4 linked regions of the Homo sapiens genome follow. The protein of the gene in region 4 purifies or fractionates together with the protein of the main gene of each other region. This does not show direct contact. Each region holds a gene or a part of one and is shown on either strand. Other genes may lie near its edges.

What was found.
Region 1: the proteins of NOL12 (region 4) and MRPS9 purify together in Homo sapiens (affinity purification with mass spectrometry; 4 studies listed by BioGRID and IntAct, with this or other methods). This does not show direct contact.
Region 2: the proteins of NOL12 (region 4) and SRSF12 purify together in Homo sapiens (affinity purification with mass spectrometry; 3 studies listed by BioGRID and IntAct, with this or other methods). This does not show direct contact.
Region 3: the proteins of NOL12 (region 4) and ZNF668 purify together in Homo sapiens (affinity purification with mass spectrometry; 3 studies listed by BioGRID and IntAct, with this or other methods). This does not show direct contact.

What each region holds. Positions count from the first base shown.
Region 1 is NC_000002.12:105,089,626-105,097,235, reverse strand, and holds part of MRPS9 (small ribosomal subunit protein uS9m), read right to left. Parts: exon of another isoform or gene 7,317-7,610; coding exon 7,241-7,316; intron 4,836-7,240; coding exon 4,667-4,835; intron 3,707-4,666; coding exon 3,598-3,706; intron 185-3,597; exon of another isoform or gene 82-184; coding exon 1-81.
Region 2 is NC_000006.12:89,107,866-89,115,475, forward strand, and holds part of SRSF12 (serine/arginine-rich splicing factor 12), read right to left. Parts: intron 1-7,610. UniProt on the Homo sapiens protein: Splicing factor that seems to antagonize SR proteins in pre-mRNA splicing regulation.
Region 3 is NC_000016.10:31,063,749-31,071,358, reverse strand, and holds part of ZNF668 (zinc finger protein 668), read left to right. Parts: intron 1-6,329; exon of another isoform or gene 6,330-6,559; intron 6,560-6,673; exon of another isoform or gene 6,674-6,740; coding exon of another isoform or gene 6,741-6,787; intron 6,788-6,877; coding exon of another isoform or gene 6,878-6,899; coding exon 6,900-7,546; intron 7,547-7,610. UniProt on the Homo sapiens protein: May be involved in transcriptional regulation. May play a role in DNA repair process.
Region 4 is NC_000022.11:37,681,885-37,689,800, reverse strand, and holds the start of NOL12 (nucleolar protein 12), read right to left. Parts: upstream 3,459-7,916; 5' UTR 3,409-3,458; coding exon 3,326-3,408; intron 1,892-3,325; coding exon 1,786-1,891; intron 1,490-1,785; coding exon 1,441-1,489; intron 952-1,440; coding exon 809-951; intron 1-808. UniProt on the Homo sapiens protein: Multifunctional RNA binding protein that plays a role in RNA metabolism and DNA maintenance. Participates in the resolution of DNA stress and the maintenance of genome integrity by localizing to sites of DNA insults.

The sequences.
Region 1 (7,610 bases), on a different chromosome or scaffold from region 4:
CTCCCGCCCCCTGAGACTGTGCAGGTCACGTCGTGCTTTCCCAGCCGGTCAACAAAGTGGAAAGGGAACATCAGCTGTTCTCTAAAGCACAGCACAAGTAAATGTGGTTACGTTTACTATAAAGATACATAATTATGTAAACAACTGAAATTCTGAATATTCATAAAAACAATATTCTGCATGCCACTGTTATACTTTTCATACTTCTCAATCAATCCATTTTACCAAGATATAGAAACACTAACATTTCTGACATTTTGAATGATTTGCTGAGAGATTAAGATTTATTTCTTTTGCTTGGGTATAGCAACACACTCTTACTGTTTGCTGATCCCCTTTATCTCAGAAGATCTTTTCAAAGCTTGAAAATAATCTCGTAAAGAAGTCTTACAGTTGGGGAACTCCATTAATCAACTGAATTTAATGTCTCTGGATTGAATGATCAGATATAAAATCAATAGGCCTTTCCAAACAATTATCACATGTCATTTGGATTCACTAAATAAAGTCTACTATAAGTGTATCTGTATAATGTATAATGCTCATCTTGATATGGTTAGTTTTTAAAGTTTCTAAAACTATTTTCGACCTTGCACTTCCCTGACACCAAACACCTATTCCCAATATTCTTAAAGTTCTCTAAATCATAGGGTCCTGCTACCTTCCTGGGGCCAGGTGACATTCTACACAACCCCTGTCAGGCCTGCTCTTTCAGGGTCGGTCAGGGCCTACAAGATCCTGGGGCAGGCACCACAGACAAAACACGGCCCTGGACTTTCTCCTGCTCAACTGAACAAGTATTTGTTGAATATCATTTTCACGCCAGGTAAGATGTTCACCATTACCTCTGTCAAGCACTTTGATTTTGCTATTTTGCCTTAATATCTTGCTACACTTTTATGCAGAAAAGCTCACTTATATTGCGTTTGCTTTCTTTGATGCTGTAGCTTCTAGACCCAAAATCAAGTTTATATAACACAGTTAAGCTGAGAGACAGGTATGGACAGGACATTCAAGTGCTATTCTTCATACCACACTAGTAAAATAATCACAAGCAGATGGGCAAAAGATGACTTTCAAAAGCCATAGCAAATCGGAATTTATAACAATACGATGTAGGGATGACATAACTCCTACAACAACAAAAAACTCATAAATCTATACTGTCTTTTTGAACAAATGCTTCCAAGAAACCAAATGAAAAGTAGCCATAAGTTATAAAAACAGTATTATAAGTAGTATCTATTAATATACTATGATAACTAAAGAAAATTTAAGCTGAGCACCTAAAGTACAAGCTACTCAGGAGGCTGAGGTGGGAGGACTGCTTGAGCCCAGCAGCTTGAGTCCAGTCTGGGTCCAGAAGTTTGAGTCCAGCCTGGGTGACATAAAGAGACCTTGTCTCTTAAAAAAAAAAAGTAAATATAAAAGAAAATTTAGGCTGGGCGCAGTGGCTCATGCCTGTAATCCCAGCACTTTGGGAGGCCGAGGCGGGCAGATCACCTGAGGTCGGGAGTTTGAGACCAGTCTGACCAACATGGAGAAACGCCGTCTCTACTAAAAATACAAAACTAGCCAGGCATGGTGGTGCATGCCTGTAATCCCAGCTACTCAGGAGGCTGAGGCAGGAGAATTGCTTGAACCCAGGAGGCGGAGGTTGTGGTGAGCCAAGATTGCACCACTGTACTCCAGCCTGGGCAACAAGAGCGAAACTCCATCTCAAAAAAAAAAAAAAAAGAAAAAAAAAATGTACAGACTGAAAATCTAATTCCACTATTGCATTTACCTCGACCATCTGGCTCCATGACTCAGTTATATATCCAGTAATTACATTATGAAATCTATTTTTCTAGATTTTAATTGAAGTCTCTTTTTATTTATATAAGCATTTGTTAAAGAATCATAAAATTTTAAAAATTAAGCCAGGAAAGTGTTTAAGCTCCCAAACAAATGGCTGTCCAGAAGCCTCCCTTGTAACTTCACTTACGTGGCTAACCCACTTCACTGTGTGTTAGGTGATGACAGAATTCCGATCAAGATCCCTGATTCTGGGTTGGTTAGTCTTCCTATTAGTCAATGGTCACCTCACTGCTGATTTGTAAGTTCCTGAAGTGACTGCCCTAAATCCTTACAACTACTTTAAAATAGTTGTAGGTGCCCATTCCCACCAAGACTAGGCTTAGGCTTCCCAACCATGTAGGAAGTTTCTTGACAATAGGAATCATATCTTAAATATCTCTGATATCTTCACAATGCCCAGAACAAGACTGGAGACATAGATGTCCTTAGTAAAAAGCTGCTGAATTCAAACCAAAGAATAAGATCTAAAGATGTAATTTCATTATGAGATCAAGCCAGAATTGAGACTTGCTGTTAAATCATCAGGAGTTATGTCTGAATACAAATCAACAGACAGGTTATTGGTTAAAGAACAGTCCTCCTATAGTTCCCAATGTTGAAGTTATCAAACCCTGGGGTATGGGTTTCTCTCTGGCTTTTCCTAAGGGAAATAAAAGCTTCTTCCATCCCCTGTCCTGTGAGGATAATAGCAGAACTAATTCATCTTAAATGGAGTTAAGAATGCACTGCTTGTTGACACAGGCACACACAAATAAAATAAACACACATTTCCTAAAATAATTATTGTGTCCAGAAGCTTACACTGTATTAGGAGGGTCCTCTTTTGCCTATATCAGCATTGGTATCAAAAGAGTTTTAGCCCTTTTGACCTTAAATACCGTAACACATGCAGGAAACAGGAGAAGGATTAGGAAAGGAGGAACTAATCATACCAAACTTCTGTTACTCGTGGATAATGACAGTAAGTACTGGGAAAATAATAACCATATCAAGAAGAGGCCTTTATATAGCAAGTCAGAGAGAGTTCTGAGATGAGTATATTTAGATTAGAAGAGCTGTAGTATCTATTTATGATTAATGTCTATTTCTCCATAGGATACAAAGTTTAAAAATTAAAACTGCCATATTTAGCACCCAGAACTAAGCAAAGCCTGATGAGTTCTTATTTTAACCCATAAATGCTAGGTTTCTTTGCTTGCTCAATATATATAATCACATTCCTCTGAATAGGAAAAAATCCAAAATGATAAAGCAGAATTTTTCTAATATTTATGATCAGAAAAACATACACAAGCCACAAGAAATTACTTGCACTTTTCTTTGCCTTGTGAGTTAGGTCAGTTTTAAGTGCCAAGGCTGGTTGTTGTGGTGGTGGTTTTGTTTTGTGCACGCCCATCCCCAAACTAGAAGGTGGAAATCTAAATCAAAATTTTTTACATTTTGGCACAGTCTGCACTTCAGAACATAAGCTACATCTAAGACTACTCAAACTGCAGTAGGATCTGATGAAAAGGGGAAGAAGAGTCAATTAATGAGGAATTCTAGAGATGCTTTTTAAAAAATCTGGAAGCTGCTTTAAAAAATAGCTTCAATTAGCTAGTTTGATATGTTACATTGGTAAAGAGAAATAATCATTCAGATAAACAGAATTAGAAGATCACAAGCCTTCTTAAATGATCATGATGTATTATAAAGTATGTTTCCTTTAAAAACAAAAAATCAGAACCCAAAACGAACCTGTCCTGTGTGATCGGGAAGTAAAGCTGGTAATCAATTCCATTTACTTTTATTCTTCCACTTCCATGTTTATAAACAATTGCTTCTGCTTTTGCAGTCTTTCTTTTACCTTCAAAAATATAAAATTCCTATTAGTAAATATCTTGAAGACCTGCGCTTTGAGACAGGTAAAACTACATTAAAATTTGTTTCCCCAAAATAATACACAACACTGTACATAAGCAAGTCCTATAACTATTATTTCAAGTCAAACAAAAATAAAGCAGGTAAACTACAGCACAACAGATGCAATAAAGCTCATTGTGGGGTAATTTTGTTCTTCAATTCCATTTTAGAAACACTACAATGATTTTAAATTAGTTTGAACAACCAACAAAGTAATTTATATTCATTTCCCTTACGAGAATCCACAACCAATTTACATAGCATTCTTCTTTTATAAACAGTAAGAATATATCTAACAACATAAGTTTTAGAAATATATAAATAGTATGATGAAATATAACTAGTAGAAATAAAAAAATACTCAGGAAAGGTCACATTTCTTTGAAAACACCACAGTAGTTAAAAATGACAATGACGTGAAATCTTTTAAGAGTTGTAAATATTTTAATAGTTCAAGTCGTAAAAGTTGGACTACGTCTAATGGCTCTGAACAAGAAAAATGTGAGTTAAGGACGTGAAGTTTTCACATTACATAGTTTTGGCATTTGATATGCAGATTCATTGAGCATTTTCATTTTTTGCAAAGAAAACTTTATTATAAATATTTTACCGATTCTAGCAGCTTAAAATGTGAAAATTAAAAGATTCAACAATATAAATGTGTGAAAAGAAAAAGTGTTAATATGACTGTATAGGTATGCATCCACATTTTTTTCTTAGGATATTATACAGTTCAGTTTTGAAAAACTTCAACAGAATCTTAAAAATTAGGAAATCCAAAGTAACGGTAGCAAAAATAAACAAATAAAAAATCTAATGGATACCAGAAAGCAATAGCAAATAAAAATAATTGTAGTTTTTCAACCTTCACTGAATTTATTTTCTCTCCACAGAATGTCATTACCTTCACTTTTGCTAAAGGCCATTCCTTGCTCATCATACTGTACAGGTTCAATCAGCTGTTTTTTTGATTCAAGAGTTACACTTCTTCGAAACCTCTGCACAAATTCTTCCTCAGCAGCACCACACTGCGATGTCAATAACTTTTCTAGCAGCCGAATGAACTGCATATACTGCAGACAATAAAAATTCATTAGAAGGTGCAAGTGTAATTGCATTTGCTAAATTTTTTCTATTTTTTGCATACTTGATCTTTCCAATGTTGCTTTTCCTGATGAATTTTGACAGGATGACACTTCTGCATCTTCACGCTGCTTTTAAAACAGCATGCAGATGCATCACTTTTCCTGCGTATCTTTAGTGCCAAATCTTTTCTTTCAAGAAACAAAGAGATTTATCATTCAAAGAAAAATCAATTTCTCTGTATTATGTTTATGAAATTGAGATTTAAATTCACTTTCAAAAAGTATTTAGATGATCTTCAAGTGTAATTTGCTCTCTTTTATTAGAACTGTATCAAGGGGAGCTTTATAAATAATTTCAAGTAAGTTATGTATAGTAATATGGAAAGAGTTTGATTTTGAGAAAATGTACCTCTTAAATTATATTTCATAATACATTTGGCAAATATATCTTTGGCTGTTCAAGCTGTGTTACTTTAATGTTTATGATTTCCTTTAAAACCGAACAATCAAGCTATTTAAAAATTCAAGAGATACTTGACTTAAAGGGCAACCTCTTGAAATAAATTATCCTTGCTCCTCTGTGCATTTTTTTTAATAGTTCTTGAACATGTGATTAGAAAGTAAACAACTTGGAATTAACCCCTTAAAATTAGAAGCCAGAATAATCACTCTAAAGTGTTTATGGAGAAGGAAACAACTAATGCTTGAGATTCTTAGTTAATATGGATTGTGAAACTCAGTTTTTTATAACCTTATTTATGTTTTTTGTCGGCGTTAAACATCACACTCATCTTTGTCACTACTGCCTTTATTGTAAAAATCTGCCATTAATAGTTTGAAATTTTTAAAAATCTCACCAGTAAGATTAATATTAAAAGAACTACTTTGACTACAGCTTCCTATGATGTAATGAAAGAGAAGGCACTCTTCTAGTAAGGGTGAAATACTCAGCTACCTAGGATATTGGGTGGGCAGAGCTCCATGCTCCTCTCCAGTCACTGGCCTGGGCGTTCTGTGCTCAGCTACTCTCTTGATTGCATCTCACAGACTCTCAATGACTTCTGCACCTACAAAGGGGCACTATGGGTGGAACTCAGCCTTGCTTCTGAACTAGGTCAAGAAGTCACTGACCACCTCCACATCCCTCATCTTGATACCAGCCATAAACATTAGGATTTCTTCTGATATCCAGTACCCCAAAGTACAAAGTATCATATATAACTTGTTTCTTTTGTTTTCATAGCTGTACACCTGTATTAAAGTCCGTGGGATATTACAAAGCAGAAAAAATACCTGAATTATTAAAAAAAAATCAAAGCAGCCAGAAACAGAGGAAATAATGAAATTACTTGTTCAGTGAAGAAGCAAAGAGATTTTTCAGTTAGATTCAAGTAGAGCAGTACTTGGCAGTTAGGATATTAGAAATTAACTCTGGATCTACCACTAACCAATTGTCTGACACTTTGTTTAAGCAAACTGCAACTTTTCCAAATCATTAATTTCTATAATACATTAAATGAGAAAAAGAACAATTCAAGTACATGACTTAAAATCTATATATGGTGGCAAAGTACTAACAATGTTAGCCACCGCCATCAAAGAAAATCTCCATCTTGGAAAAATTTGTGAAATTTATCTACACCCCAATCTTCCAGAAAGTAATAAATTTGGAACATCAAAATGTTTAAGACATCAACTGTCCTGTGAAAATGTTGATATATTAGAACATTTAACAAAATAAGAATGCAATTAAGACCTAAAGCAGGGGGTCACAAACTTTATAGGGTATAAGATTCGCCTGGAAAGTTGGTTAAAAAGATTCCTCGGTAACTCCCTAGAGATTCTGAGCTAGATCTAGGGTGAGGCTTAGGACACTGTAGTTTGTAACCAGCATTTCAAGGGATTCCGACAGAGGTGGTTTGCAGATCCCAAGATAAAAACCACTGACCTTACAGATATGGCACACAAGGTAAGCAGTAAACTGCATGAAGGTAACCATGTGCTGCATCCCTTTTCTACTTAACCTATAATGACTCCTTACACTTATCATCAGCTTGTAAAATTAGCTACTGGCCTTACGTAAGGAGATGAAACAACATCTGCCGTGCTTCCCTAAAACAACTGGCACAGGATATGAGGGCACTTACAAGAGGAGGACTTGGAGACTCGACAAGTCACCTCCCTGACCACAAATAAGGTCCTCCCAAGGCAGAAATCAATGATGAATGTGTTTTGTTTTTTTGTTTTGTTTTGTTTTGTTTTTAAAGAAAGAAAGAAAAGTCATCGTAGGAACACCTGCCTCTGAGGAACATTACTATTAGGATCCTAAATACAGCAATTGTCTGTATTCTTATTGCATAGGTCCCCTTAAATTAAAAAGATTAATTACTCACATCTAGATCTGACAGTTTTTCCACTAACATTTCTTCTAGTTCCTCCTTAATCAGCCATCTGCTGCCAATCACGTCTCTGTTAAAATATCACATATATTCTCTTTTTAATTAGCCATGCAATTAGAGTTATATCACAAAAGATCCCACATATAGTAGCAATTTTATGATTTGAAAATCAGTTTTTATATTATATAGCAGTAATTTTACCCAACTAAGCTATTTTTGACATACATTCCATTTCCTCAATCTACTCTAGAAAAGGTATCTACTCTAGCAAATGTTTTAAGAGTTAAATATGCCACTATGGAACTCACTTGGTATTAAAAGCCCACCAGATTTCTTAAAGATTAAAATTGTGCCTGTATAACTT
Region 2 (7,610 bases), on a different chromosome or scaffold from region 4:
GCTTAATTTCCAGAAACACTGACCCAGCATATCCACCTCTGAAAGTTATTATAAGACCTAATAAGTAATTGTTTCACTAAGAACACATTCATTTTGCTTCACTTTAATTTCATGTTTATGTTAATCTTGTTTTCAGATAGCAAGAATTAGATTCTAAAGAAGTCCTAAAATTATTTATCAGGCTTTAAAGAAAAATGGATGTTTTAATATTAAACATAAAACAAAGTAACTACTGTATTCCCAAATCTGACAGGTATTTCGAGCCTGCTTATGTGCCTTCTAGTGCGATTAGGTGCTTCAGAAGGGGTACCAAAAAAAAGAAACAGCATGATATTCATCTTCATGGAGCTACAATTTAACTGAAGAGACAAAATATTTAGCAATAATAGCTAACAGTTACAGTGCATTTATATGTTAGCCAGTGTTCACCTTACAACCACTTAATTCTTACAATTTCCCTGTGGTTATTTACAGATGATACAGACAGATTATGGGTGATACAGACAGAATTTCAGGTTATTTACAGGTAATACAGGCAGATTACAGGTGATACAGACAGAGTAACCTATCTAAGCTCACTGAGCCAGCAAGTGACAAAGCTAGAAATCAAATTTTCAGTCTCATACTGGTCCATCTTAACCACTACACCCTACTGCTTCATGGTGCTATCATAGGGATTCAGCATCAAGCTATGATCATAAAATGTGGCTCGGGAGAAATAAAGATTCAAAGATGACTAAGAAGCTTCTAGCTTGGACAAATGGAAAAAAGATGGTGTCAGTGACAAAAATTAGAAGAGAGCTAGATCAAGGAGGAAGAAAAGAGGCAAAAGAAGCAACTTTCAGGTTTAGAAATGCAGTATTTGAGGTGATGGTAGAACACTGATAAGAGTTCTATAAGCAACAGAAAATTGTGATTATATGCATATTAATTAGTGTGTATTAATATAATTATTAGAAGCCAGTGACTAAGGCTAGAGATGGGGATTTAGAAATTACATATAAGATTCAACAAAAATTGACTAAGCATCTACTTTTTGCCAGTAGCTCAGTCAACATTATGACATACTTTATTTCATTTAACACTCATAGAACATGTTTTACTATTAGTTTCTGAGGACAGTGACAATGTCTTTTTTCTTTTACTTATTCAGAATTAAGCAAATACTTATTGAGCACCTACCATGTGCCAGGCTCTAGGAATATAATGAGAAACAAGAAAAACACAATTCCTGCTCCCACAGACCATAGACTGGCATAAAGATTCTCAACCTCTCCTGAGTACTGTAATCATCTGTGAAGGGATGTTACAGACAGAGGCACCCCAACCCGATGCATTAATTCTGGACCTAATTAGTGTTTTCCATAGTGAGGCCCAGTTATGTTTAATTTTTTCAGGACTTCACAGGCAATTCTGAGACTGAAGGTTAAGAATCACTGCTAAAGCAGGTGTCTTCACCAGCATATCTCTGTACCTAATGTAGCTGCTGGGCACACAGTAGGTACTCAATATATATTTGCCTATCAATGAAAAAAGAATACATTACTGTTACCATTTAAGAGTTAAGGAGACTGAGGGTGAGAGAAGTTACCTTGCCCAGAGATCTACACAGCCAGTAGTAGAGCTAGGATTCAAATGAAGGTCTTCTGAGACAACCAATCCCATCAACCAAATGTAGTGGCTAAGAGGAAAGGGATCATAGATAATATAAAAGAGGAGGCTGCAGCACTGTGTGCCACAGAGGTCTGGAGTCTGGAAGCCAAGGGTGATGGGAGTCAGATGGAACAGGTCTTTTCAAAAGAGCCAATTCCCATTCACTGTCTCCACTCCCTCACCTGTTAGCTGTTGTTTTATTTTTGCACTTTTGGTATGATCTACTTCAATATTCAAAAAAGTACAGAGAATAATAAACACCCATGTATCTACCAACAAGATTTATTTTCTGGCCGGGCGCGGTGGCTCACGCTTGTAATCCCAGCACTTTGGGAGGCCGAGGTGGGCGGATTACGAGGTCAGGAGATCGAGACCATCTTGGCTAAGAGGGTGAAACCCCATCTCTACTAAAAATACAAAAAATTAACTGGGCGTGGTGGCGGGCGCCTGTAGTCCCAGCTACTCAGGAGGCTGAGGCAGGAGAATGGTGTGAACCCAGGAGGCGGAGCTTGCAGTGAGCCAAGATCATGCCACTGCACTCCAGCCTGGGCAACAGAGCAAGACTCTGTCTCAAAAAAAAAAAATTATTTTCTCCGTATTTGACATACTTGCCATAATTTTCAGTATTTTTAAAGAAATATTATATCCTTCTGTTACCAATGGAGGGTCTTGCCTATGAGTCCTCCAGGTTCTTGGCATTTTTAACAAAGAATTGGACAAAATGCACAAAGCAATGAAAAAATGAAGCAATGAAAGCACAGATTTATTGAAATGAAAAGATACTCCACAGAGTGGGAGCAGGCTCAAGCAAGCCACTCAAGTGCATTGGTTACAGAATTTTCTAGGGTTTAAATACCCTCTAAGGTTTCCCACTGGTTACTCGGTTACACCCTATGTAAATGAAGACTTGGCCCACCACCAGTCTGGTGGAGGGAGGCGACCAATTAGAGGCTGAAGCAAAGCTACAAAGTTACACATGAAGACTTGGCCTGGGACCAGTCTGATTGGTTGTAGGAGGGGACCAGTCAGAGGTACTTTCCATTTTTTATCTGTAATACAGTGCAAAGGGAGTAGCCTCTGATCCTTTTGTTACTTGGGTGTAGAGAGGTGGAGTTCTCCTTTTGATTCAGTTCTAGGAAGTCACTGTGAATCGGCCTTAGGTTCCCTGCCTCCAGACCCTATTCTCCTGCTTCAGTATCACTAGCAAAGAAATTGGTAGGCTGGAGGGTATGCCTACCTTAGCTTCACTACATGTTCTTCAGAGTGGCCCAACCAACTTACATTTCCAAAAACATGTGTTAGAATTCCCACTGTTGCCCAGGCATGGTGGCTGATACCTGCAATACCAGCAGTTTGGGAGGCCAAGGTGGGAGGACTACTTGAGCCCAGGAGTTCAAGATCAGCCTGAGCAACATAGTGAGACCCCCATCTCTACAAAAAATAAAAAAAAATTAGCTGGGCGTGGTGTCTATAATCCCAGCTACTTAGGAGGCTGAGGAAGAAGAATCACTTGAGCCCAGGAGTTTGAGACTGCACTGAGCTATGATCATGCTACTGCACTCCAGTCTGGGAAGACAGGGTGAGACTTGTCTTTTTTTTTTTTTTTTGGAGATGGAATCTTGCTTTGTCACCCAGACTGGAGTACTGTGGCACAATCTCGGGTCACTGCAGCCTCCACTTCCCAGGTTCAAGCTATTCTCGTGCCTCAACCTCCCAAGTAGCTGGGATTACAGGCATGTGCCAGCACACCTTGTTTATTCTATTATTAGTAGAGATGGGGTTTTGTTATGCTAGCTTTTAAAATTCCTCTTGAAAATATGTTGTAGTTTTTGGTGCAAAGGTTCTGCACATTTTTTGTTAACTGTTTTCCTAAGTAAGTATGCCTTTTGATGCTATGGTAAATGCAACTGTTTTTTAAAATTGTCATTGTTTTCAATTGTTTGCTGTTAATATATAGAAATAAAGTTTTTGTAAATTTACCTTATATCCTCATAACTTACTAAACTTATTAGTTCTAGCAGTTTTTTTGTTCATTCCCTAGTATTTTCTATGTAAGCAAATATGTCACCTAAGAATGGTTACTTTTATCTTTCCAATTTTTGTATTTTATATCTTTTTTCTTGCCTTGTTGCACTGGTTAGGACCTGCAATAAAACGTTGGCGGTTGTGAGTGGCAATCTTTTCTTTTTCCTGATTTTATAAGGAAAGCATTGTCTTTCATCATTAAGTATGATGTTAGCTATGTTTTTTATAGCTGACATTTATTAGGTTAAGAAGTTCTCTTCTATTCCTAGTTTGCTCACACGTTTTGTTGTGTTTTTGTTTTTGGAGACAGGGTCTCAGGTCTCACTCTGTCACCTAGACTGGAGTTCCATTAATACACTATATTTAACATTAAAAAATTATTCCTTTATGCAGTACAAAAGCAAAGATATTATTTTTCCTAAGCTACATCTTGTTTCACCAGTGAAAAGAAACATAACACAAATTTTAAAACTATTTATTTTGAGACCGAGCCTCACTCTGTTGCCCAGGCTGGAGTGCAAGGGCGTGATCTCGGCTCACTGCAACCTCCTCCTCCCCGGTTCAAGAGATTCTCATGACTCAGCCTGCCGAGTAGCTGGGATCCTCAGGTGAACCGCCCGCCTCGGCCTCCCAAAGTGCTGGAATTACAGGCATGAGCCACCTCTCCCGGCCTAAAACTTATTTTTAAAATTTCTTTAGTTCTTGTGTTCAATTTCATTTCTGTCAAATTTTACACTAATTCACAAAGCCTTTTAGTGTCTTCTGCTTTTAATTTTTTAAAAATTTGTTTTGTTTTAAAACATTCTTAGTAAATAAAATTTGAAAAATATTTGAAAAAAGGAAGAAGAAAAGTAAGTCCTACTGTCCAAATTAATTTCTTTCTAGTCTCATTTTCTTTTCTTTCTTTTTTTTTTTTTTTTGGAGACAGGGTCTCGCTCTGTTGCCCAGGCTGCAGTGCAGTGGTGATATCATAACTTGCTCCAACCTTGAACTCCAGTACCTAGGACTACAGGCACGCATCACCATGCCCGGCTAACTTTTTTTTTTTGGTAGAGATGAGGCCTTGCTATGTTGCCCAGGCTGGCCTTGAACTCCTGTCCTCAAGGGATCCTCCTGCCTTGGCCTCCCAAAGCACTGGGATTACAAGCATAAGCCACTGAGCCTGGCCCTAGTCTCATTTTCCATATATAGCTTTTTCCTTTTTTCATTTTTTAATATAGTTATGCACCACATAACAATGTTTCAGTCAATGATGAACCATATATATCATGGTGGCCCCATAATCTTATAACAAAGCTGTCCTAGACAGGTGTACCTTTTAAAAAATCTTTTACACCATATTTTTAGTGTCTTTTCTATGTTTAGATACATGTAGGTAAATGTCTTAAAATTGCCTGCGGTATTCAGTATTGTAACATGCTGTACAGGTATGTAGCCTAGAAGCAACGGGCCACACCACATAGCCTAGGTGTGTAGCTGGCTTTACTGTGTAGTAGGTTTGGGTTTGTACAACAACAAAATCACCAAATGGATTTGTCAGAACCTATCTCTGTCCTTAACTGATGCATGACTGTAACTGAAATCATGCTGCATATATAATTTTACATATGTTTTATTTAACATTTTATCCCAATGATTTATTTTTTTTTGAGACACAATTTCACTCTGTCACCCAGGCTGGAGTGCAGTGGCCGGTATTGGCTCACTGCAACCTCTGCCTCCCAGGTTCATGCGATTCTTCTGCCTCAGCCTCCCTAGTAGCTGGGACTACAGGCGAGTGCCACCACGCCCAGCTAATTTTTATATTTTTAGTAGACACAGGGTTTCACCATATTGGCCAGGCTGGTCTCGAACTCCTGACCTCGTGATCCGCCCACTTTGGCCTCCCAAAGTGCTGGGATTATAGGCGTGAGCCACCGCACCCAGCCCAATTTTTTCTATTATTAGTAGAGATGGAGCTTCACTATGTTAGCCAGGCTCATCTCGAACTCCTGACCTCAAGTGATCCACGTGCCTCGGCCTCCCAAAGTGCTGGGATTATAGATGTGAGCCACCGTGCCAGGCCCCAAAGATTTTGTTTATAAGCATACTAAATGTTAAAGCCTATTTATTTATTTATTTTTGAGACAGAGTCTCACTCTCACCCCCGGAGTGCAGTGGTGCCATCTTGACTCACTGCAGCCTCGACCACCTGGGCTCAGGCGATCCTCCCACGTCAGCCTCTCAAATAGCTGAACTACAGGTGCGCACTACCACACCTGGCTAATTTTTGTATTTTTTGGTGAGACAGGGTTTTGCTATGTTTCCCTGGCTGGTTTCAAACTCCTGAGCTTAAGTGATCTACCCACCTCAGCCTCCAAATGTGCTGGGATTACAGGCATGAGCCACTGTGCCCTATCTTTAAAGCTAATTTTAAAAGTGTCTACATGTCACATTGCTAGTTAACTTATACTGTATACTACTTTGTACTAAAAGGTTAATACAGATTACATGTGATGATTCTAATTTCATATCATCACTCACCTGCTATTCGATCTTAGGCAAAATACTTAACCTAAACGTTGATTTCTCATCGGTAAAATGGGGTTAACAAAGAACATACGGCCAGGCGCAGTGGCTCATGCCTGTAATCCCAGTGCTTTGGGAGGCCAAGGTGGGCGGATTACCTGACATCAAGAGTTCGAGACCAGCCTGGCCAACATGATGAAACCCCGTCTCTACTAAAAATACAAAAATTAGCCAGGCATGGTGGCACACATCTGTAATCCCAGCTACTCGGGAGGCTGAGGCAGGAGAACTGCTTGAGCCCAGGAGGCGGAGGTTGCAGTGAGCCGAGATCGTGCCACTGCACTCCAGCCTGGCTGACACAGCAAGACTCTGTCTCAAAATAAAACAAACAAACAAAAAAACCACCATACATTATAGGGTTACTGCGAAAATTTAATATATGTAATGTTTTTAGTATGGCACCTAGTACACAGTGAGTATTCAACAAATGTTAGAGATTTCATTCATGTAATATAATCTTGTAGATTTTGATTGTCTGCCAGTGGCAAAGCTAAAAAAAAAAAAAAGTGAAAAAATGGAAAAGGAAATCAGTCAATCTCAACTATCAGTCTCAATCACTCACTGGTGAATGAAGTACATAGATCAGAGATCAGGTGTCACCTGCAGATGTGTTTTATTTGGCCTGCATGACGTTTAAACATTTTTAAAATGCGTATAAATATGAAATTGCCAATATTTTACTGCTTTTATTTTTTTAGTTTTTGAGACAGAGTCTCGCCCTGTCGCCCAGGCTGGAGTGCAATGGTACTATCTCGGCTCACTGCAACCTCCACCTCCCGGGTTCAAGCGATTCTCCTGTCTCCGCCTCCCGAGTAGCTGGGATCACAGGCACGCACCACCATGCCTGGTGAATTTTTTGTATCTTTAGTAGAGACGGTGTTTTACCATGTTGGCCAGGCTGGTCTCAAACTCCTAATTTCGTGATCTGCCCACCTCGGCCTCCCAAAGTGCTGGGATTATAGGCGTGAGCCACCACGCCCGGCCACAGCTTTTATTTTTTTAGACTCTCTAAAGGTCTCTCTGTCACCCAGGCTGGAGTACAGTGATGTGATCATCGTTCACTGTAACCTTGACCTCCCGGGCTCAAGTGACCTCCCGGGCTCCCACCTCAGCTTTCCCAGTAATTGGGACTACAGGTGTCATACACCAGGCTACATTTTATAGCTTTCTTTTATTTATTTATTTTTTGAGACAGAGTCTCACTCTGTCGCCCAGGCTGGAGTGCAGTGGCCTGATCTCGGCTCACTGCCAACCTCCACCTCTGGGGTTCAAGCGATTCTCGTGCCTCAGTCTCCTGAGTAGCTGGGATTACAGGCGCCAGCCACCACACCTGGCTAATTTTTGTGTTTTAGTACAGACGGGGT
Region 3 (7,610 bases), on a different chromosome or scaffold from region 4:
CCTGTCTCTACTAAAAATACAAAAGTTTGCCAGGTGTGATGGCTTTCGCCTGTAGTCCCAGCTACTCGGGAGGCTGAGGCTGGAGAATCACTTGAATCCGGGAGGTGGAGGCTGCAGTGAGCTGAGATGCAGCCACTGCACTCCAGCCTGGGCAACAAAGACTTTCTCTCAAAGAAAATAAATAAATAAAAATGAAATAAATAGGCCGGGCATGGTGGCTCAAGCCTGTAATCCCAGCACTTTGGGAGGCCAAGGTGGGTGGATCACCTGAGGTCAGGAGTTCCAGACCAGCCTAGCCAACATGGCCATCTCTACTAAAAATACAAAAAATTAGCTGGCTGTGGTGGCAGGCACCTGTAATCCCAAATACTTGGGAGGCTGAGGCAGAAGAATTGCTTGAACCCAGGAGGCAGAGGTCGCAGTGAACTGACATCACACCATTGCACTCCAGCCTGGGCAACAGAGGGAGACTCTGTCTCAAATAATAATAACAATAAATAATAAAATAAATAAAAATAAGCCAGGCACGGTGGCTCATGCCTGTAATCCCAGCACTCTGGGAAGCCGAGGCAGTGGATCATCTGAGGTCAGGAGTTCGAGACCAGCCTGGCCAACATGGTGAAACTCCATCTCTACTAAAAATACAAAAAATTAACCAGGCGTGGTGGTGGATGCCTGTAATTCCAGCTACTCGGGAGGCTGAGGCAGGAAAATCTCGTGAACCGGGGAGGCGGAGGTTGGAGTGAGCAGAGATGGTGCCATTGCACTCCAGCCTTGGCAACAAGAGTGAAACTCTGTCTCAAAAATAAATATATAAATAAAAATAAAAACATTTTTTAAAAAGTAAAGAGGGCTGGGTGCGGTGGCTCATGCCTGTAATCCAAGCACTTTGGGAAGCCAAGGTGGGTGGATCACTTGAGGTCAGGAGTTCAAGACCAGCCTGGCCAACATGGTGAAATCCTCTCTCTACTAAAAATACAAAAATGAGCCAGATGTAGTGGCGGGCGCCTATAATTCCAGCTACTCGGGAAGCTGAGGCAGGAGAACCGCTTGAACCCGGGAGGCGGAGGTTGCAGTGAGCAGATATTGTGCCATTGCACTCCAGCCTGGGGGACAGAGTAAGACTCCGTCTCAAAAAAAGGGCCGGGCGCGGTGGCTCACACCTGTAATCCCAGCACTCTGGGAGGCCGAGGCGGGCGGATCACGAGGTCAATAGATCGAGACCATCCTGGCCAACATGGTGAAACCCCATCTCTACTAAAAATACAAAAATTAGCCGGGATTGGGCCGGGTGCAGTGGCTCACGCCTGTAATCCCAGCACTCTGGGAGGCCGAGGCAGGTGGATCACGAGGTCAGGAGATTGAGACCATCCTGGCTAACACAGTGAGACCCTGTCTCTACTAAAAATACAAAAAATTAGCCGGGCGTGGTGGCGGGCACCTGTAGTCCCAGCTACTCAGGAGGCTAAGGCAGGAGAATGGCATGAACCCGGGAGGCGGAGCTTGCAGTGAGCCAGGATTGTGCCACTGCACTCCAGCCTGGGTGACGGAGTGAGACTCCGTCTCAAAAAAAAAAAAAAAAAAAAAATAGCCGGGCGTGGTGGCGGGCACCTGTAGTCCCAGCTACTTAGGAGGCTGAGGCAGGAGAACTGCTTGATAGATAATCATGAGATTCCGTCAAAAAATAATAATAATAATAAAGAGTAGATAGAGAATGATTATCAGGGGTAAAGATAGCATTGAGAAAGGTAGTCATTCAGTGCTCCTTGGTTGGTTAAAAAAGGAAAAAATTTGGAATATTAAAAGGGGGGAAGAAAAGGAAAGGTGGTCAAGAAAGCTCTTTTTGAGGAGGTGACTGGGAGCTGAGATCCAAATAACACCAAAAAAGACAGCTACACAAAGATCGTGGGAGAAGAGTGGCTCAGACAGAGGGAACTGCTAGTGCCACTGCCCTGAGGTGGGAAGGAATTTAGCTCTTTGAGGAGAAGAAAGGAGGCCTCTGTGGGTAGAGCCCAGTGGGCCAGGGAGAGGAGTGGGAGGTGAGGTAGGCAGGTGTGTGTGTGTGTGTGTGTGTGTGTGTGTGTGTGTGTATTTTTAGTAGAGATGGGGTTTCACCATGTTGGCCAGGCTGGTCTCAAACTCCTGGCCTCAAGTGATCTGCCCAGGTAGGCAGGATTTAGATGGTTTGGGGCTATGCTGGCCATGGAAAAGATATTGGTCTTTTTCCTGGGAGCAGTGGGAAGTCTCATGATTCAACCTGGGGGAGAGAATGGAGACTTGGGTTCGAGTCTGGCTCCTTGACCAGCTGTGTGTCCTTGTGTACAGTTTTTCCTTTGTGGGGACCTTAATCTCAATATCTGAAAAAGAGGTGTAGTGAACACTTAAAATGCTCCTCTCCTGAGAGCTCGTGGAGACCTAAGGATGTGTGTTTGGTTCTTAAGTATTGGTTGGGCAGGCACGGTGGCTCACGCCTGTAATCCCAGCACTTTGGGAGGCTGCGGTGGGAGGATCACTTGAGCCCAGGAGTTCTAGACCAGCCCAGGCAACATAGCAAGACTTCATCTCTACTAAAAATAAAATAAAAATTAGCCAGGCATGATGGTGCATGCCTGTAGTCCCAGCTACTTGGGAGGCTGAAGTGGGAGGATTGCTTGAGTCTGGGAAGTCAAGGCTGCAGTAAGCCATGACTGCACCACTGCACTCCAGCCTGAGCGACAGAGTGAGATCTTGTTTCAAAACCAAACAAACAAAAGTATTGGCTGGAATGATCCAGAGTGTATTTAAAATACAGATTCCTGAGGCCTACCTCAAGCTCTTTAATAAAAAAAAAAAAAAAAGTCTGGGCGTGGTGGCTCTCGCCTGTAATCCCAGCACTTTGGGAGGCCGAGGCGGTCGGATCACGAGGTCAGGAGATTGAGACCATCCTGGCTAACACAGTGAAACCCCGTCTCTACTAAAAATACAAAAAACTAGCCAGGTGTGGTGGCAGGTGCCTGTAGTCCCAGCTACTCAGGAGGCGGAGGTTGCAGTGAACCAAGATCGCGCCACTGCACTCCAGCCTGGGCAACAGAGTAAGACTCCATCTCAAAAATTATATATATATATATATATATATATATTTTTTTTTTTTTTTTTTTTAATGGTGGGATGTTAGACAGAGACCTAGCCTACCTGGCCTCTTTGTGTAGCTGGGCGCATGCTGAGACCAACCTGGCACTCCCCTACCTTTTCCCCTGGGAAGTGCCATGGGAGGAGGGATTTCCCCTCCAGCTACCTGGTGTCTAACTCACAGATAGGAAGGCTGAGACCCAGAGCTGGCAAGAGGCAGTAGAAGGGCCAGAGCTCAGAACCACTGGGTCAAGCCCTCTGAGAGGGAAGCAGAGACATAAAGGGTGCCGGCCAGGGTCTCAGGGCAGTTCTGCAAGGATGAGAGAAGACACAGGTATGACCTGAGCTCAGGGTTCTGGTCACTGTGGGGCTGGCGGAGGCAGCAGACAAGCGTAAGAGGCCCCAGACCACTGAGCAAGACCCCAGCAACTTAAGGCAAATTAAACACCTGGACTGAAGTCCCAGCTGCTTAGGTTACCCATTGTGGGACCATGGGCAAGTCACTTAACTCTTGGAACCTCGATTTATTCCTCTGTAAAGTAGGGACAAGAATCCCTATCTCAGAAAGGTATAAGACATTAAATTAAATAAACCAGCACACCCAGCAATGTGTCTGGCTCTAAGAAGACGCTTTGATAATTGAGGACAGTAATTATTTTTGACTCATTCATTCCTCACCCAACTCTGTCAGGTAAGTACTGTCATTATCTCCATTTTTCAGATTAGAAAACTGAGGTTCTAAGACATGCAGTACATTACACACGGTCACATCAGCTGGGAAGTGATGGAGGCAAAATCTGAAGCCAGACAGTTTGGCTTCAGGGACTGGGCACTTAACAAAATACTGAACCATTTCTCTGGACCTTGGTTCCCTTATCTGTGAAAATGGAATAATAGAACTTTCCTCATGGGGTTGCCATGAAGGGTAACTGAGCTAATACACATAAGGAGTTTAGGATACTGCCTGGTATTTGGCGAGTGCTCAGTAAATGTGAACTATCTTTTTTATCATTTATTTATTTATTTATTTTTGAGATGGGGTCTCACTCTGTTGCCAGGCTGGAGTGCAGTGGCACCATCTTGGCTTACTGCAACCTCAGTCTCCTTAGGCTCAAGCATTTCTCCTACCTCAGCCTTCTGGAGTAGCTGGGAGTACAGGCATGCTCCACCATGCCTGGCTAATTTTTGTATTTTTTGTAGAAATGGGATTTTGCTATATCGCCCAGGCTGGTCTTGAACTCCTGGGCTCAAGGGATCCACCCGCCTTGTCTTGAACTCCTGGGCTCAAGCGATCCACCCGCCTTGGTCTCCCAAAGTGCTAGTGTGAGCCACTGAACCTGGCCCAAGCTATCATTTTTATTAAGGAGGAACATTATCAGGCAGACTCTCCAGAAACCGTCTGGAAGAGGTAGTGAGTACCTCATCCAGAAATAGGGAGGGATCCCTTGGAAACTGTAGGAAGAATTCAAGTCATCAGAAAGGTTAGAATTCAGTCCCTTTAACTTATCTTCAAGCCCCAGGATTGATTATTGATTGATTGATTGATTGAGACAGTGTCTTGCCCTGTCTCCCAGGCTGGAGTGCAGTGGTACAGCCTTGAACTCCTGGGCTCAAGCAGTCCTCCCACCCCAGCCTCTCAAGTAGGCAGTACTACAGGCACATGCCACCACATCTGCTAATTTTTATTTTTAGTAGAGATGGGGTCTCACCAGGTTGCCCAGGCTGGAGCGCAGTGGTACGATCATAGTTCCCTGCAGCCTCGAACCCCTGGGTTCACAGGATCCTCCCGCCTCAGCCTCCCACGTAGCTGGGACTTAAGGCGCATGCCACCACACCTGGCTAAGCCCTAGGATTTAGTGGGAAAAGTGAAATAACCAAGTGAGAATAAGATGGAGTTTTGTGGGATTGGGGCCAAACCCAAAGGGGAGATGCTTGAGGATCCTCCTGGTGGAAGTGGGGCTCCAGTGAAGGACTTGTCAGATTTGGAACAAGCAGGAAGGACCTGGGGATTTGCATGGTGTGGTGGAAGCCATGGAAAGTTCTTGAGCAGGGAACAGGAAACATCATTCATTACTTTTGGGAGAAGACCGGCTGCATGGGGTTGGGGAGGGAGGGCAGCGTGCAGGCCTGAGGCCGGGATTTCAGGCAGAAGGGTGCTGACTTTAAGGATGTGGCCCTTGCCACGCGTCAGGGGCTCCTGTGTCCTCCCTGGGTCAACCAGGTAAGCTGCTTCTCCCGCCCTTTCCTGGCATAAGGGGCCCTGAGTCTCTGTATTTCCCCTAGCACCCTCGTGGCTCAGCTCAGTTTCCTCCTCCTGAACCCCAGTGTCATAACTTAGAAGCCACCAACCCCTAACGTGTCCAGATGAGGAAATAGTCTTTTTATTTTTTTTTTTTTGAGACGGAGTCTTGCTCTGTCGCCCAGGCTGGAGTGCGGTGGCACGATCTTGGCTCACTGCAAGCTCCGCCTCCCAGGTTCACACCATTCTCCTGCCTCAGCCTCCCGAGTAGCTGGGACTACAGGCGCCCGCCACCACGCCCGGCTAATTTTTTTGTATTTTCAGTAGAGACGGGGTTTCACTGTGTTAGCCAGGATGGTCTCGGTCTCCTGACCTCGTGATCCGCCCCCCTCGGCCTCCCAAAGTGCTGGGATTACAGGCGTGAGCCACCACGCCCAGCCGGGCGGAAATAGTCTTATAAACAACACTCATTTCACTGAGGTCTCATAGTAATCCACAGGGCTGCAAGTAGAACGTAGGCCCCCTAGCCTCTGGGCACACCTGGCTCCCTGCAGCCCCCACTCCTCAGACCCCTTCCCCCAGCAGCAGCTGCTGAGCACTCCTTAAGTGGATCTGCCATAATCCTCTTCCCTTCATCCCCCAGGGAGGATGAGCTGGTGTTAAGACTAATACAGCCATTAATCCTGTTTCCTCCCAACCATGATCCCCAGGAGCAGCTGGGTGGAGGGCGTCTGGGTTCTGGACCAGAAAGTAGGGATCTCAGCTAGAGCTGGTATCCCAGGAGGCCATGTTAGATCAGATACATCAGTTATGACTCAGAAAGAGGCTTCCAGCTGCTAGCAATGGCTCAGGCTGCCTTGAGTGATTCTCCATTACCAGAGTTGTGGGAACAGGCCAACAAGATTCCAGAGCAGAGAGTGGACAGATTCCAGTCTGGGGCGGAGGCCCGTACAGCTGTGCAAGGCCAGAATTCTGTGTGAACAGTTGCTGTCTCTGAGGACTAACCATCCAGAGGAGGAAAGAAAACACAAATGCTGGGGACCTGTCACTTCCAGACAGTGCCAGCTACCAGATTTAGCCCATTGGCTCAGCCCTTTTCTGGTCCCAGGTCTGTCTTTTCTGGGCGCTTGGAGACCTTCAGGCCAGGCCCACGTCTGGGTACACTCTTTATCCTGGCATAGTTCTTGGACACTGAGCTGAAGAAGGAAGATGGTGAGACAGATGGAACCTGGGCCTCTGGGAATGCCACAGTGTTTGGAAAAGCCCGTTGGGGGCGGGGGGGGACGTGTAGGTGAATCTTTTGTGACCCTCAGCCTCCTTTCTTAGTGGCTCTGCGGACACTTGGTCCAACTCCTTTCTTCAATGAGCAGATCAGGGAGGAAACGAACGCAGGATGTCAGAGCCAGGAATGCTGGGCAGGAAGGATGTGTGGGTTCCGAGGTGAGAAATGCAGATGAGATAGGGTTCTCTCTGAGGCTTTCAGGAGTGGCGAAGGTATGTGGCTTTGGTCTAACTTTGCTTCTCTTGCAGAGAAACCCCGTTCACCAAGGCCATGGAAGTGGAGGCTGCAGAGGCCCGGTCCCCAGCCCCCGGCTACAAGCGCTCGGGCCGCCGCTACAAGTGCCTGTCCTGTACCAAGACATTTCCAAACGCGCCCAGGGCAGCGCGCCACGCTGCCACACATGGGCCGGCAGACTGCTCTGAAGAGGTGGCCGAGGTGAAGCCAAAGCCAGAGACAGAAGCTAAGGCAGAGGAAGCCAGTGGGGAGAAGGTGTCAGGCTCCGCGGCCAAGCCTAGGCCCTATGCGTGTCCGCTATGCCCCAAGGCCTACAAGACGGCACCCGAGCTGCGCAGCCACGGGCGCAGCCACACGGGGGAGAAGCCCTTTCCGTGCCCCGAGTGCGGCCGCCGCTTCATGCAGCCCGTGTGCCTGCGCGTGCACCTGGCCTCGCACGCTGGCGAACTGCCCTTCCGCTGTGCGCACTGCCCGAAGGCCTATGGCGCGCTCTCCAAGCTCAAGATCCACCAGCGTGGCCACACAGGCGAGCGGCCTTACGCCTGCGCCGACTGCGGCAAGAGCTTTGCTGACCCTTCAGTGTTCCGCAAGCACCGGCGTACTCACGCTGGCCTGCGGCCCTACAGCTGTGAGCGTTGCGGCAAAGCCTATGCGGAGCTCAAGGACCTCCGCAACCATGAGCGGTGAGGGTGCCTTCCGGGGCAGGGCGCCTTCCGGGGCAGGGCGACAGCGTTGCTGCAGCCAATG
Region 4 (7,916 bases):
CCGCCTTGGCCTCCCAAAATGCCGGGATTACAGGCGTGAGCCACCATGCCTGGCCCTGAGATCAGTATGGATGTGATAGGGGAGTGGCTCCAGGACTTAAGAACACAGTAACCCACACAAGGAAATGTGTTTTATATCGTAATTGTGTGCATATATGTCCATAAATCCTTAGGCACACCCAGATACAACTCCAGTGGAAACAGCTGTCTCATGAAACAATATTTAACATGACACTTTCGGATATTTTCAATTATATTTTTTTTTTATGCTGATTGCAACCTACTCATGATTCACAACCCACAGGTTGAAAACCCACTTAGTGCACACAGACGTGCCAGGGCTGCGAATCGCACAAAGGGAACGATCACAACAAACGGCTACCTTTTGTGAAGCACTTATGACAGGGCTGGGCACTGTGCCAGGTGACTCACATGGATTAACCACTTTCACCCTCATACCAATCCCACAAGGCAGGTGCCACCATCAGCAACCCCCAGTTCACTGATGGAGAAAGGGAAGCAGGCAAGGTGAAGGAGCCTGCCCAAGCTCCTCAGCCGCTCAGCAGTGGGGCTGGTCTTTGCAGCACCCCGGAAGCAGGGAATGAAGGGTCCAAAGGGAAGGAGCCCCAGCAGTGGGGTACCCACAACATGGGCCAGCACTGAGCAACCCCGACAAGCCAGTCTGCCCCCACGCCCCTTCTTCCCAGGGCTGGCAGTGGGATACCCATGACATGGGCCAGCACTGAGCAACCCTGACAAGCTGGTCTGCCCCCACGCCCCTTCCTCCCAGGGCTGAGACTGGGACCCACCTCAGGTGGGGTCAGCCCGAGCAGCCGGGCCCCCGAGAGGTCCAGGTCACTGATGGTGGTCACGGTGACTGTGTGGTTGGGGTGGTCATACTGCACCGACTCCGTCTTTGCTGTCACCAACCGGTCCAGCTCATCTGCCTCCTCTGTGGGGGTGGACACAGACCTGGTCTCAGTCACGGGAACGAGTGACCAGGCTCCAGCCTCCCTCCCGCCCTGGAGTGCAGTGCCCCCTCTACTCTGTGGACGTGGAGCGCATCCACAAGGTCACTGGCTGTAGAGCCTGGTCTGTGGATGAATGTTGTGAATGATCCCGTTTCCTTCATGCTCTAGCTGGTCCCCATGTCAGACAAACCCTCTGTGACAGCTACTGCTGTCCCTCCCCTCCACCCCTAGTCCTTTCCATCCTTAAAAACTGGGCTCTCTTCTCAGGCTTGGTTAACCATGGGGTTTGGGACTCCTTCTCCTGGTCTCTGTTCCACTTGCACTTAGAGGTGCTTAGGACCACCCCTGGCCCCAGGGTACCCCCCAAGATCCCTAGGGCCAAGGAGGTCAGCTTCTATCCCTTCCACCCACCAAGGGTATAAACCAGGCCCATCAGCTGTTCTCCAGGTCAGGCCAAGCATGCCACTTACCCAGAGCCTCTTCTCTCTCTGCCAGCATCTTCAAGTATTCCTGGTGGCGCTGAAACCACACAGGCAGGGAACACAGTGAGTATGGCCTCTCAGTCCAACCTCAGGCTGGGGTATTAATCACCCCCAGGGTGAGGGAGACCATGATCCATACTGCAAGATCAGGAGGAGACTCCATCTTCCATCACTCCCAGACCCGGGCCCACAGAGTCTCCACCTGTATAAACTATTCCCCAGTCCTGCCCACACACACATCGCCCCATGCCAGCAGCTGCCTCTATTAGGGAAATCCAAGGCTGCAAGTGCCCTAAGAATCAAAGACCTCCCTCCCACCTTCCCCCTGCGTACCTCCTCCCGAAGCTTCCTCTGCTCCTCTTTCAGCCGCTGCTTAATCTCCTCAATGGCTGCCTTCTTTCGCTCGACCTTCCGCTTGTGGAAGCCTGTCAGGTACTCCCTACAGGAAGGAAGCCGGCAGAGACAGGAGAGTCATTATACAAGGAGAGAAGGGCTCGCTCTAGGAGAAAAATGGCTAATGCCGCGCTCACTATGTGCTAGGCACCATTCCAAAAAAGTGTAAGTATTAGCTCATTTAACCTTCACAACAATGGCCAGGCATGGTGGCTCACGCCTGTAATCCCAGTACTTTGGAAGGTCGAGGTGGGAAGATCACATGACGCCAGGAGTTCAAGACCAGCCTGGCAAACATGGTGAAACTCCGTGTCTACTAAAAACACAAAAATTAGCTGGGCTTGGTGGCGCATGCCTGCAGTCCCAGCTACTTGGGAGGCTGAGCGGGGAGAATTGCTTGAACCTGGGAGGCGGAGGTTGCAGTGAGCCGAGATCATGCCACTGCACTCCAGCCTGGACGACACAGACTCCATCTCAAAAACAAACAAAAAACCCTCACAATAACCTGTGCGGTGGGTATCAATCTCCATTTTACAGATGGGAACGTTGAGTCACAGAGTCTAGGTTACTTGCCCAAGGTTAGAGAAAGGATACATTTAGGAAAATAAGGGAGATACTGCCTCTTTCCACTCAATACTCTCCAGGGATCTCAGGTTCAGGCAACAGGGCCAGGCTGTGGGGCGGGTGGGGGGGGGGGCCACACACAGTACATGAGGTAACCCCTTCCACACCTACAAACCTCATTACTCTCTCAACAGGGTTTTCAGGGCCACCACCATCCAGACCTTCGGAAACCCTGCACTGGACCAACACCCATGTCCCCAGGACACCTGACCCTAAACTCGCCTGTAGGGCCTGTTGATGCACGCTAGGAGTTTCCTGATGATGCCCAGCATTTCCCTACCTCCTTCCCTCGGTCTAATCTCAGCCCCTTCTCATCTCCACAGTGCTAGCTGCTCTGTTCCCATTTTGTCCCACGGTCCAGCACTGGGCTTTTCGCTGACCCGCTACCATGTGCCATTTATTTATCTGGCCAGACGCTGAGGCTCAGAGGTTCTGCTTCCTGATACGGGACCTGGCACACCAAAGGAGCCCAATAAATGTCTAGGGAGCGAATGAATGAACTTAAGCCACTCTCATTTCATTGGCTCATCATTTATCAACCACGGCTGGGCGCCTGCTGTGTGCCGGACCGATGGACTGGGCTGGGCTAGGGTGGTCGAAGCCACTGCTCTGAGACCCGAGCTTCCGGCTATCTGGCGGCGCACAGACACTAGGCGAGGTGGGGAGGTCAAGAAGGGAGAAGGTGGCGGCCGAGAAGGGAGAAGCGGGAACGCGGGCTGGAAGGCCGAGAGGGGTTCTCTAGCCACGCCAGGGGGCGGGACCGGAAGAGCCCCCGGCGGGAGCGTGCTCGGCCCCAGACCTGGCCTTGGCCGCGAAGAACAGCTCGAGGGGAGTCCGGTCCGGCTTTGCCACTCACCGCCTCTTCTCCTCGTCGAAGCTAAGAACGAGCCTCGGCCGCCGGTCGTCACCATCTCGCTTCTTCTTCTTGTTGCGGCCCATAGCAGTGAGGCCGCCGGCTTCCTCTCCCTGAAGACACTTCCGGGTGTAGCGTACTCATCCTCCCGGGCGCACACTTTAGCGTCGCACCGAAGTTCCGTCCACCAGGCCCAGCCTTTTAAAGGGACCTCCCAGCTCCTTTTCTTCCCTCTTCCCATGCATGACGCGCTGGTCCCTGATCTCTCCGTGACTCCCAGCTCCAGCCCCTCCCCAGCCTCGCTTCAATGAGAGCGAGGTCCCCTGGACCCCACTGCCTAGGACTGTGCCTGGCACACACTCAATATGGAGTTACTCGTGAATGGCCCAAATTTCCTGTACTAACCCTACTTTGGATATTTTTTTCCTTTAATTTATTATTATTGCTTTTGAGATGGAGTCTCGCTCTGTCGTCCAGGCTGGAGTTCAGTGGCGGATGTCGGTTCATTGCAATCCCTGCCTCCCAGGTTCAAGCAATTCTCCGCCTCAGCCTCCTGAGTAACTGGGATTACAGGTGTGCGCCACCATACTCCCTAATTTTTGCATTTTTAGTAGAGACAAGTTTTCACCATGTTGACCAGACTGCTTGAACTCCTGACCGCAAGTGGTCCTCCCATCTCGGCCTCCCAAAGTGCCGGGATTACAGGCGTGAGCCACCGTGCTGGCCCCTACTTTAGATGCTGATGTCAACTCGTTGGTAGTCTCCAAGAGGGAGCCAAACTGCCTGGATTTGTATACTGGCATCACACCTACAGCTGTGTGGTCCCAGACCAATGGTCTTCGCGGTGCCTCACCCTATTTGTAAAATAAGGGAAAGTATAGTAGCTTCGTAGGGTTGTTGTAGACACTGGTTCTGGAACTTTGGCATACATCAGAATCCCCTAGAGGGCTAAAAACCTGGATCGCTGGGCCCCACCCCGGAGTTTCTGATCCGATAGAGGTTTCTGAGTGGATTTCCGTTTCTAGCAGGTTCTCAGGTGATGCTAATGCTGCTGGTCCGTGGACTAAACCTTGACAGCTGTGATTGTGAGGAAGTTAATTATGTAAAGTTTGTCTAACATAAGGCACGCATACATGTGTTTTCTGCACAAGCCATCTTCCCTCTTTGTGCCTCACTTTGCCCAAAGGTGGAATGAGTGTATAATAACATCCTTGACTGAGAATGAGGGCATGGTTGTGAAAGATTGCAGTGAAACAACGCCTGAAGGGGATTTTTAGTCACTTGGATTGTATGCCAGAATCCTTCATCCGCTTTTTTTTTTTTTTTTTCTGAGACAGAGTTTCGCTCTTGTCACCCAGGCTGGAGTGCAGTGTTGTGATCTCGGCTCACTGCAGTCTCCGCCTCCCAGGTTCAAGCAATTCTCCTGCCTCAGCCTCCTGAGTAGCTAGGATTACTGGCACCTGCCAGCACGCCCAGCTGATCTTTGTACCCTGACTCTGAGTTTTGGAAGGAGGCAGGCAGTAAGTGCAGCACTCCAGAATGCTGAATTCATTCCATACAGCTCCTCTGCTTGGGAAATCTATGTGGGATCCTGAGAGGAAGTTACCTTTTTTTTTTTGAGACGGAGTTTCACTCTTGTTGCCCAGGCTGGAGTGCAATGGCACGATCTCGGCTCACTGCAACCTCCGCCTCCCAGGTTCAAGCGATTCTCCTTCCTTAGCCTCCCTAGTAGCTGGGATTATAGGCATGTGCCACCATGCCCGGCTAATTTTGTATTTTTAGTAGAGATGGGGTTTCTCCGTGTTGGTCAGGCTGGTCTCAAACTCCTGACCTCAGGTGATCCACCCACCTCGGCCTCCCAAAGTGCTGGGATTACAGGCGTGAGCCACCGCGCCCAGCTGGAAGTTACCCTTAAACTACAGGCCTGGCCTTTCAGTTCTGTGGCCCAGAGCAATGCAGGGGGCTCCCTTAGGGTGCTGGACTGCACCTCTGACCAGCTGCTTCTGCCCCTTAGTGGCAGTGCCTTAAAGCCACCCTTGGCACCTTCCTGGGTAGAGGCATCACCCTGGCTGAAGGTGCCCAGAGAGTCACCTTCTGCAGCTGGTCTGTCTCCTCCCAGTCCCAGGCTTCGACCTGCTTGGTTTGCCAGGGCTCCACTCCCACCCAGAGTGGTTGGAGATGAAAAGTGAAGGCTCAAGCCGGGCGCGGTGACTCACACCTGTAATCCCAGCACTTTGGAAGGCTGAGGCGGGAGGATCACGAGGTCAAGAGATCGAGACCATCCTGGCCAACATGGTGAAACCCCATGTCTACTAAAAATACAAAAATTAGCTGGGCATGGTGGCACACGCCTGTAGTCCCAGCTACTTGGGAGGCTGAGGCAGAAGAATCACTTGAACCCGGGAGGGTTGCAGTGAGCCGAGATTGCGCTGCTGCACCCCAGCCTGGCGACAGACAGTAGAGCAACATAGTAAGACCCTGTCTCTACAAAAAATTAAAAATTAGCCAGGCGTGGTGACATACTCCTATAGTCCAGCGACTTGGGAGGCTGAGGTGGGAGGATCACTCAAGCTCAGAAGTTTGAGGCTGCACTGCAGCTGTGATCATGCCACTGCATTCCACCCTGGGTGACAGAGTGAGACCCCATCTCTGAAAAAAAAAAAGAAAAAAAAAAAAAACAGGCCAGGCGCAGTGGCTCATGCCTGTAATCCTAGCATTTTGGGAGGCCAAGGTGGGTGGATCAATTGAGGTTCGGAGTTCCAGACCAGCCTGACCAACATGATGAAACCCCATCTCTATTAAAAATATGACAATTAGCCGGGCGTGGTGGTGCATGCCTGTAATCCCAGCTACTCGAGAGGCTGAGCTACTCGAGTAATCACTTGAACCCAGGAGACAGAGGTTGCAGTGAGCCGAGATCCCGCCACTTCACTCTAGCCTGGTCAAAAGAGCAAAACTCTGTCTCAAAACAAAAAACAAAAACAATAAGAAAAGAAGTGATGATAAACTTAATGAGGAAAAAGAGTAACAAGAGCAGCTGACATTTATTTAGCTCTTTACTCTCTTTAGATTATTGATTTTATTATTTATTTATTTATTTATTTATAGAGATGAGGGTCTCACTATGTTGCCCAAGCTGGTCTCAAACTCCTGGGCTCAAGCGATCCTCCCCATTCAGCTTCAGGAGTAGCTGGAACCACAGGTGCCCACCACTGTGCCTGGCTTATGATGATCTCTTTTGAGGTACAATCCACATTTTACTGAGGAGGAAACTGAGGCTCAGAGAGGTGCAGTCACTTGTCTGAGGTCACACAGGCAAAAACAGGTGCTGAGGGTGGGGCGCAGGTGGCCTAAGGACAGAGATTGACTTAACTTATCTGGACCTAGTTTCCTAGGCCCTTGGGACACACCAAGCCTTAAAAGGGGTGAAGGGAACCAACACTCACCGAGCCCCTATTGCGTGCCAGGCACCATGCATTTCTATACATCACCTCAGCTAATCTTTTTTTTTTTTTTTTTTTTTTGAGACGGAGTCTTGCTGTGTCGCCCAGGCTGGAATGCAGTGGCATGATCTCGGTTCACTGCAACCTCCTCTTCCCGGGATCAAGTGATTTTCCTGCCTCAGCCTCCCCAGTAGCTGGGACTACAGGCATGCACCACCATGCCCGGCTAATTTTTGTATTTTTAGTAAAGACGGGGTTTCACTTGTTGGCCAGGCTGGTCTCAAACTCCTGACCTCAAATGAATCTCCTGCCTCAGCCTCCCAAAGTGCTGGGATTACGGGTGTGACCCACCACACCCAGCCAATACTAGTGCAGTCTTTTTTTTTTTTTGAGATGGAGTCTCGCTCTGTCACCCAGGCTGGAGTGCAATGGCGCAATATCGGCTCACTGCAACCTCTGCCTTCCGGGCTCAGGCGATTCTCCTGCCTTAGCCTCTTGAGTAGCTGGGATTACAGGCACGCGCCACTGCGCCCGGCTAATTTTTTTTTTTTTTTTTTTTTTGAGACGGAGTCTCGCTCTGTCGCCCAGGCTGGAGTGCAGTGGCGGGATCTCGGCTCACTGCAAGCTCCGCCTCCCGGGTTCACGCCATTCTCCTGCCTCAGCCTACCAAGTAGCTGGGATTACAGGCATGCACCACCATGCCCGGCTAATTTTTTATATTTTTAGTAGAGACGGGGTTTCTCCATGTTGGTCAGGCTGGTCTCGAACTCCCGACCTCAGGTGATCCACCCGCCTCGGCCTCCCAAAGTGCTGGGATTTACAGACGTGAGCCACCATGCCCGGCCTAATTTTTGTATTTTTAGTAGAGACGGGGTTTCGCCATGTTGCCCGGGCTGGTCTCGAACTCCTGACCTTAGGTCATCCACCCACCTCGGCCTCCCAAAGTGCTGGGATTACAGGCGTGGGCCAGCGTGCCTGGCCAACTAGTGCAGTCTTAACAAAGTTTGCCAGATGAGGAAACTGAGGTTCAGAGACGTTGAATAACTGGTCCAAGGGCACACAGCCACAGAGCTGGGGTTTAAACACAGGTCTGTCTGACGCTGAGCCGGGCTTCCTTCCTCCACACCCAGTGGCCTCTCTTACCTGCCCCA